2 separate regions of the Homo sapiens genome follow, and region 1 is reported to be linked to region 2. The links are microRNA targets in miRTarBase. Many come from high-throughput screens and were not tested one by one. Region 2 holds a microRNA gene; the other region holds the end of a gene's coding sequence.

Region 1 (4,384 bases), not on the chromosome of region 2:
CATGATTGTACCCCCTTAACCCAGCCTTTGCATCCCAGGTGGTCATTTGGAAAAGGAGGGGATCATGCACAGATGGAGGCCCCTGCATGCCCCTGGGTGGGGGGCAGGGACAGCCTGAAGGCCGAGCATGCCTTCTGAGCGTGCCTGTGCCTGGGACAGACACTGGGAGGCCTTTGCTAATCCCTGCCAGGGTCCCGCCTGGGGCCAGAGGCTGCGAGGGCCTGGGGAGCTTCAGCCTTGGGGGTCTGCGGCGGTTACTTACGGTTAACAGATTCTGGGCTCGCCGGAGAGTCCTTTCTAAGAGCTGGTAGGAAATAAGAGGATTATTTATTAGGGTCTCGTGTTGGGCCACCGGGGGGCGGGTAAGGGTTGTATTCTTTGTGCTTCTCCATGTTTTGAACTCACACCAGAGCTCAGCCTCTAAAACGGCACGGGACAAATGCCCGCCACCCTTTGGGATCTGCTGGAACGTGTCTGTCATCTCCCCCCGCCCCCGCTGACCCGCTGTCTGTCTCTGTCTCTCCGTCCAGGGGAACGCCCTTTTGCTTGTGACTGGCAGGGCTGCGACAAGAAGTTCGCCCGCTCCGACGAGCTGGCCCGCCACCACCGGACGCACACGGGCGAGAAGCGCTTCTCCTGCCCTCTGTGCTCCAAGCGCTTCACCCGCAGTGACCACCTGGCCAAGCACGCCCGCCGCCACCCCGGCTTCCACCCGGACCTGCTCCGGCGCCCTGGTGCCCGCAGTACCTCCCCCAGCGACTCGCTGCCCTGCAGCCTGGCCGGGAGCCCTGCGCCCAGCCCCGCGCCCAGCCCAGCCCCCGCAGGCCTGTAGGGCCCTCGTGCAGCCCACCCTGACCGCCAGGATGCTTCTGCCATCCAGGGGTGTAGTGAGGACCCACGGGGAGCCTGGGCCCCTTCCAGCCGTGGGCAAACCCTGAAGACACCCCTGCCCCCCTCCAGAGAGTGAGGAGGGGGCCTGAGACTGGACCTGGGTCTGCCTGACCTCAGAGGTGGCTCTCAGGATGGGTGACGGGGGCTTGTGTCTGTAAATAGCCATGATACTAACTTTCTTCCCATCTGTGCAACGGGGCCCCCCCAGGGCAGCTAGGAGGTCCTCCCCTCTCCTCTCCACCACCCCCTGCTGCCCCCCTCCCGGGGTGGGGTTTGGGGGGGTGGAGTGGACTTCTGGGAGCCGGCCCGGGGAAAGCACCCCCTGCCCCATCCCTGCAGATTGGGATGAAGTGTTCAGACAGCCATAGAGGAGTCGGGGGTTGACACGGCCCCTGCCTCTCCCCACCCCACCCCCACCCCACCGAAAGCCATGGGAGTAGTTCAGGGAAATGGGGGTGCAGCCCAGCCACCCCCCATTCGGGTACTCAATCTCAGGTGTCCACAAGTTCTGCCCACGGTAGGGGCTGCCTGGCCCCCCAGACCTCGGGGGTAGAGCCAGGAGTGGGGCAGCGTTAGGATGCCCGGAGGGGCTCCAGGTGTTGCTTCTGAGACCTGGGATGGGGAGGGAGGGGACCTCTGGGTTCTTCCAAAGAACATTTGACTCAGTGGGGTCGGGAGGGAATCCTGGCTTATTTATTTTCCTCTGTCCTCGGGTGTGGGGGCCCTAGCTCGCCCTCTCTGGGTGGGTGGGTGAGAGAGGCTGCAGGGGAGGCTGGCACCGGGCTTGGGCCTCCAGTCCCTGCCTTGCTGACTTTGGCCGTTGCGGTATCACGTGACAATCAACTCTCCCTTAACGACGACTGCGGCTGTTGGGCTGCGCTGCCCTCCCTGGCCTGCAGGTGGGGCCGTGGAGCCCATGCCCGCCGGGGTTGCAGGCTCTTCCGGGCCTGGGCTGCAGCCTGGCCCGGCCCTGCTTCCCTGGCCTCCCCTCCTTCTCCTGGGTGCTTGGAAGAGGTGGGTCCTGGCCCGTGGTTGAGGTCTTGCCTCGTGGACTGGAAGCAGAGGGCTGGCTGTGCAGCCTCCTGGGGTAGCTCGTTTTTTTTGCACCGGGTAGAATATTTTTTCAGGCACGGATTCCTTTTTTTCTGGGCCCCCATGGGTGGTCCGGCATCCTCAGGGGGTGTGAGTGTGTGTGGGGGGTCTCTGAGCTGAACTTGGGTGGGGTGGGGACTTGTTCCTCGGGGGCCACCTTTGTGTCCTTGTCAGCGGTCGTCCTGCTGTGGCCTGGGTTGCATTTCCTCTTGGGGGGGGTATTGAGGACCCCCAGCCTGGAATGAGAAGGGTCCCCGGTTCCATGTCAGACCCAGAAAGGTGGATCCCCCCACTGTTGGCTGCAGGAGGTTTTTGGTACCCCCTTTTGTTCCAGAACCGTCCTGCCTCTCGCTTGGGGACAGGGGGGCTTTGGATGGCACTGGTGTGCACCTGGACCCAGCCCCGGCCTGGCAGGATCCAGGGATGGGTGCCTGGGATCCTGGGGGGAGGGAGGCAGGGGACGCCCTTCTGGAGCTGGGCTCGGAGGGTCCTGCCCCATCCAGCCCTCGGCTCTCTGTGTTCTCTGTCCCTAGCCTCAAACCCTCTTCTGGCAGCGCTAGTGAGATGCCTTAGTCTGTGGGGGTGGGTGGGGGACTGGGGCCCCGTTTTCCTTTGTGAGTCTTGGTTGGCCCCAGCCCTGGCAGGGGCCTGTCTGGAGCAGGGGTAGGTAGGGCTGTGGGTTCCAGAACTCTATAACTGGGCCCCTCTCCAGTGTCCAGGGGCTTGGAGAGACCTGCGCCCACCCCTCCACTCTCCCAGGAGTCGCTGATCACTGGGACCTGGTTCCAGCCGTTTGCAGGGGAGGCGGCTCCGAGAGGCGTGTGCTTTCCGTGGGTGGCGCCCCTCCCCCGCCCTGCCTGGCCTCATCCTTGTATTTAATTAATTAAACAAGCCCCTTTTTAAACCCTACTCCAGCGTGTGTGTGGTCTCTCCCGTGGCAGTCCCCACCTGTGGGCACGCTCTGAATCCCTCTGTCCCACCCACCAGTGTGGTCCCAAGTTCATCCACCTCGTGGGGAAACCGAGGCAGCGGGCTAGTGAAGGGGGTCTTGGCCAGGCCCCTCTGGCTGAGACACAAAATGCCCTGCCCCTAGCCCTAAGCCCCGCGGAGGGGGCTGCCTGCAGCAGCGCGCGCTGCGCCCGCCGGGTGTCACCCACGCCTGGCGCAGCTGCGCCCCCCGCCCAGCTTCCCGCCCGCCCCGTTGCCTGGCAACCGAGGCACAGTGACAGGGCGCCCGGGGGCGTCCACCGCCCGCCCCTTCCGGTGCCGCAGGGGATGGGGGAGCCTGCGCCCCCGGGGCTGCTCGCCGGCGCGGGACAGGCTCCTCCACGGAGGGTCCCCCGGCCGCCTCCCAGGCTCCTGTGCTCCTGTATTGAGCGCCTACTGTATGCCAGCTCCCCTAGTGGGAATAGGGAAGAGGGGGCGGTGAGAGCTTTGAGGCCCTCCCCAGGAAAAAACCACTGTGGACTCCAGCGCTCCCCAGAGCCTGGAGGCCGGCGGGGCTGGGATGGGGCCGGGCAGGCCACTCCTACACACCTGCTGAGCCCTGGGGCTTCGCCTGCTGCCCGCCCGGGGAAGGGGGTGGTCGGCCTCTCGTATCGCGCGGCCGGCGCCGGCTCACGCCAGACCCCTCCCCAACCTGGGCGGCAAATTCCCGGCTTTACTCGAGGGCAGCCTCCCTCGTGCACCCCCAATCCTGCCCGACCCATCCTCCCATCCTACCGGACGCCCCACAAACATCACTCCCGGGACTCTCGCACCCCTCCAGCTCCTGCCTGGTTTTCTGCCCCTCTGGAGCAAAATGTCTAGAATATGGGGTCTACACTCGCAGCCTCACCCCTCTCTCTGACGGACACACTCGCATTAGGCTTTTAAATTACACGCCCCACCCCCAGCACACACACGTGCCCAGAAGCAGCACCATCCTTTTGGTGCCTTTGGGACCCCGACCCTCCCGGGCGTCCCTCCCACCCGCAGGCTGCTCTTGCCATGCCCCCTCCTCGGTCGAGGGCAGTTCCATCCTGCAAGGCCAAAATCCTTGGGGAGTCACCCTGGACCCCACTGTGTGTCTCACCACCCACATCTGGCCCATCTGAAACCTCCTTGGGCTCTACCTTCAAAATAGATCCAGGATCTGGCCGCCTTTCCCTGCTGTAAGGGCTTCCACCGCGACGGTCTAGCCTCCTCACGACTCACCTGAACCAGTGCAATCACCTTGGCCCTGGTCTCCTCACGGTTTGTCCTCCCCACGGCCACCAGAGGGTGTCCGTGAACACCTGGGGCAAGTCTGGTTCCTCCTCTGCCCGCAACCCTCCATGGCTCCCACTGCCCTCACAGTCAAAGCCCAAGTCCTCCCTGAGGCCCATAGGGTTCTGCATGACCTGCCCCGTCCTCTCCCTGC
Region 2 (4,384 bases):
TTGCTCTCACAGAAGCCACAGGACGGATATGGTAGGTTGGAGATTTGACTGTTGTGGATTATAAATGGGGCTGGAAGCTTTGAAGAGAACAATTACATCTTGAAACAGTGTATTTGGCAACACTGACTAGGTTTGGGGCGGGGGAGCTTGGACTGTTGACTGGCTGTTGTTACAAAAAAATCTTTGAGGCAGAAATCAGGGTCTTGTTGTGCAGAAAAGTCAGCCTGGAGGTGAGCAGGGGGAATAACAGGACCCAAAAGTTCAGGAAGCAGCCATTTCTGACTCCTCTAAGGGAGGAAGAAGGGGCTGGGATACAGGTGGCCCAAGGACATCATTTCCAATCACTGTACAATGAGTATTTGATGAATGAGTGAAATTAGTGAAGTCAACAAGAATCAGAGGCCTAAAAGAAGAAAGCACATCAGCTTCTAAGACTTCCAGACACAAGGTTAAAAAAAAACAAAAAACAAAAACTGCTAGTCACAGACACAGACACAAAAGACTGTGTGGCAGAGAATTTTCTTAAAGCAATCACTGTCTATTTGATATGGCATTTTTTTAAAACACTTTGTAATTTATTTTGATGGAAGATTTCATCTTCATAAGGGAAGAAAACTCTTTAATGTAAACACTACACATTAATTGTCTTATAAGTTCTAAGAAGGGAGGAAACACACCTTCCATTTTTTTAAATAGTCCACAATCTAAGGCTCAATACACACTTGACTGAAACTGTGGACTCCTCCATAACTGAGCTGCTACATTCCTTAATTCATTTATTTGTTCATTATATATTCATTGTATAATCATTACACCCTCACTTCCAACAAACGCTGAGCACTCTTTCTTTACTTGGAACCATGGGGTTTTAAAAATTAAAAAACAAAACAAACAAAAAGGTGACATCATACTTCTGGGGTCATGTAACCTGGTAAGAAAAAGACAGCCACAAAAACAAGTAAATGTAAAATGCATTTTATTTAAAAATGTAACAAATCAGGTACTCACACAATGTAATAGAAGTCCAGGGGTAGGGGAGATGAATTATAGCAGAGGAATGGGATGTAGGATTTCATGGGCCTTTGTAAGGGTGGTATAATTTGAGCTGGGCTTTGGAGGAAGGGTTAGGCTCCTATTGTAGTGACAGAGGAAACAATATTCTAAACAGAAGGAGATAGTCTACTTCAGAGGTGGTGCCACGTGACCTAGAATCAGGAGACCCTGCGTGCCCTGCCCTCCTGGCCAGCTGAGCCTCACACTGGTATTGGATGTTGTATTCCCACTGCAGTGTGTCTCAGTGGGAAGGCCCCCCACGTTTGGGATGCATATTTTGCCACGGAGATCATCTTCTGGCAGTGAATGACCTGAAACCCCAGAGCCTGGAGGAGGTCTCCCTGTTTCTTACCCGGTCCATCCAGAAGGAGGTGAGTCGTACTGACCAGCCCTGAACAGGGCAAATCAGTACCAGAAGGAAAAAGATCAGGGTCTTAGATGGAGTCTGAGAAGTACCCTGAATACAAATAAGGTTCCTCATTCTTCCACCATCAAGTGCAAATAACAGAATGTGCTTTCAGGACTCTTTCAGGATTCTTTCATATCAAGTAGCATTTGGAGAAGGCACTGAGCTAAGAGACAGAGCACCTGGGTTCAGGACCTCAGATCGGCATGATGTAGCAAAAAGAGCTTGCATGGAATCAGACTGGTGCAGGGATTCCAAAACAGCTCCTTCAACCAATTTGTGCCTCAGTTTTCTTTTCTGTAAAATTATGACTAATGATGGTGCTGGTTGTTGGATAATTAAATGAGGTAATATGTGTAACGTGCTTACAAAGGTGACTGGCACATATTAGGTGCTCAATAAAGCTACTAGTTACTTTTACTTCTACTACAACTGACCATGGAATGTTATTCAAGCCCATTTTTTAAAGCCTCAGTTTCATTATCTCAGAAATCGTCACAGCCCTAACTTCCTCATAGAATATTGCAAGAATTAAACATAATATGTGGTGCTGGGCACGGTGGCTTACACCTGTAATCCCAGCACTTCGGAAGGCCAAGGCAGGAGAATCAATTGAGCCCAGGAATTCAAGGTTACAGTGTGCTATGATTGCACCACTGCACTCCAGCCTGGAAGACAGAGCGAGACCCTGTCTCAAAAGAAAAACAACAACAGACCACCCCTAATATTATATGGGTATGCACTAAGTATGTTGTTTTTTCAAGGACTAGCTATTGTCCTGCATATCACTGCAGTCTTCATGTGTTAATTCCTTCCCTGGTCTACTTTTCTTTCTAACTAGCCCTGTGACCTTAGGAAATTCACTGCCTTCTCTGGGCTTCAGCTTATTCTCACTAAAGTGAGAGGCTGGTTTTCAAACTGTGCTTCTTGCATCCCCAGGATGGAGGTGAAAGGAGAGGAGAGGAAGGAGAGAGTATGCTGGGTCTTCAACTGGAGAAGCTTACATTTATCTTTTATCTTTTATGAAAAAAAGATTAGTCCAAAATATTGGACTTTCCTGTTAGCTTTCCTTAAAAAACAGTTCTTTGGCTTCAAATTTCTGAAAACCATTGTATTAGATGATTTCCAAATTTCTTCCAGCTCTAGGAATTTTGTGATTGTGTAGCATATCTATATTAAGAACACATCTTATCTCTTCTGCACTACGTAATAATCCCATTGGTCACACAAATTGTGCCATCCCTATTACTCATTACCCTAAATGAGTAATTCCAGTGAGGATAAGTGAATGAGTTGTCTAAGATATATAACTAGTTAGTGGCAGGGCAAGTACACATTCGTTCACTTTCTTTTTTTTTTTTTTTTTTGAGACGGAGTCTCGCTCTTTCGCCCAGGCTGGAGTGCAGTGGCGCAAACTCGGCTCACTGCAAGCTCCGCCTGCCGGGTTCACACCATTCTCCTGCCTCAGCCTCCTGAGTAGCTGGGACTACAGGCGCCGGCCACTACGCCCAGCTAATTTTTTGTATTTTTAGTAGAAACAGGGTTTCACCGTGGTCTCAATCTCCTGACCTCGTGATCCGCCCGCCTCGGCCTCCCAAAGTGCTGGGATTACAGGCGAGAGCCACTGCGCCCGGCCCATTCACTATTTATTGAGCATCTGCTGGGTGCTGTATACTGTGCTAAATTCAAGAGCTACAAAAATGGCCTCAGCCTGAGCTGAAGCTCACAGATTAGTGGATGAAGCAGGCATGTTATGTGCTACTTGCTATACAGTGTGTGCCCTGAGATATGAACACAGGGCCATAGGATCACAGAGGTAGAATGGAGTAAATCTACATGAAGGAGGCCAGGAAGGTGTCTCAAAGAAAGTGGTGTTTGGCTTAGGTTTTGAAGACTGGATAGGAGACTGCATGGTGGAAAAGAAGTAGATTTCAGGGCCCTAGTCCAACAATCTGGTAACTATAGTACATTTTCTCTGCCAAAGATCCACACTGGGCTGGGTGTGGTGGCTCACACCTGTAACCCCAGCACTTTGGGAGGCGGAGGTGGGCAGATCATGAGGTCAGGAATTCGAGACCAGCCTGGCCAATATAGTGAAACCCCGTCTGTATGAAAAATACAAAAAATTAGCTGGGCATGGTGGCGGGTGCCTGTTATCCCAGCTACTGGGGAGGCTGAGGCAGGAGAATAGCTTGAACCCAGGAAGCGGAGGTTGCAGTGAGCCGAGATTGCACCATTGCACTCCAGCCCTGGGAACAGTGTGAGACTCTGTCTCAAAAAAAAAAAAAAAGGATCCACATACACTGGGGCCAAGTGGTCAATATAAGCTTCTGAACTCTTCTGAAAGTTACCAAACACTACTCTGACCCAAAGATCCAGGCATTAATTCAGAAGCCAAGAAAAGGGTTTTTGCCTGTGAGCAGATCCAGGAACTGTACCTGGGTGTTGCTGACTGCAGTTTATCCTGACTGCCTTTCTAGACTGTGGAGTCATTGCATTTCTCTTGTGCTCGTTCTGCCTTCCCTTTCTAATTGATAACAGCCCCTACATGCTATTGAGAAATATGCAGTATTCATCTTCATGATTATCTGGAAGATAGAAAATTCCCTTACTTTCCCACTGCCTCCATTCCTGATTTCTTTGTGTTGATGGGTATCCACTGCTCTTTTAAAATTCAAACACATAGTCCCTGGAAGGAAAAAGAATATTGGAAAAGGGAGATATGGAACCAAAGGAAGAACAGCCATTGGCCCTTGATGTTTTAAAGTGCCTGAGCCAATCCCATTTACTCTCCTTCCTGTTATGCTACAGATGAGGGAAGTGGAGGTTGGGGTGGGGATGGGGCAGGGATTGGGAGGGGAGAGAACTGAGATTTTCAAGGGAAGGGGAGAAGGTGTGTGCAGGGGAAGGACATGACAGGTTGCA

What was found. The annotated mature microRNA hsa-miR-4483 reads GGGGUGGUCUGUUGUUG and lies in region 2 at 2,165-2,181, opposite strand. An mRNA with a match to its seed (bases 2 to 7 or 8) in the 3' UTR can be bound and repressed. Matches are read on the target gene's strand: a 7mer-m8 pairs with bases 2 to 8, a 7mer-A1 pairs with bases 2 to 7 and ends in A, and an 8mer does both.
Region 1: the mRNA of KLF16 is a reported target of hsa-miR-4483. Seed matches in the 3' UTR shown: 7mer-m8 at 1,131-1,137.

The regions. Positions count from the first base shown.
Region 1 is chr19:1,850,907-1,855,290 of GRCh38, reverse strand. It overlaps KLF16 (KLF transcription factor 16), which reads left to right. Exons shown (of 2, transcript NM_031918.4): 2 at 531-2,892. The coding sequence ends at 832. Among named protein-coding and RNA genes, the nearest start is that of REXO1, 4.6 kb to the right of the region's middle. RefSeq lists enhancers at 1-235, 236-793, 794-1,350.
Region 2 is chr10:113,775,836-113,780,219 of GRCh38, forward strand. It overlaps MIR4483 (microRNA 4483), which reads right to left and starts at 2,219; the gene lies at 2,158-2,219. PLEKHS1 (pleckstrin homology domain containing S1) reads left to right here. Exons shown (of 13, transcript NM_001395068.1): 11 at 1-31; 12 at 1,289-1,424.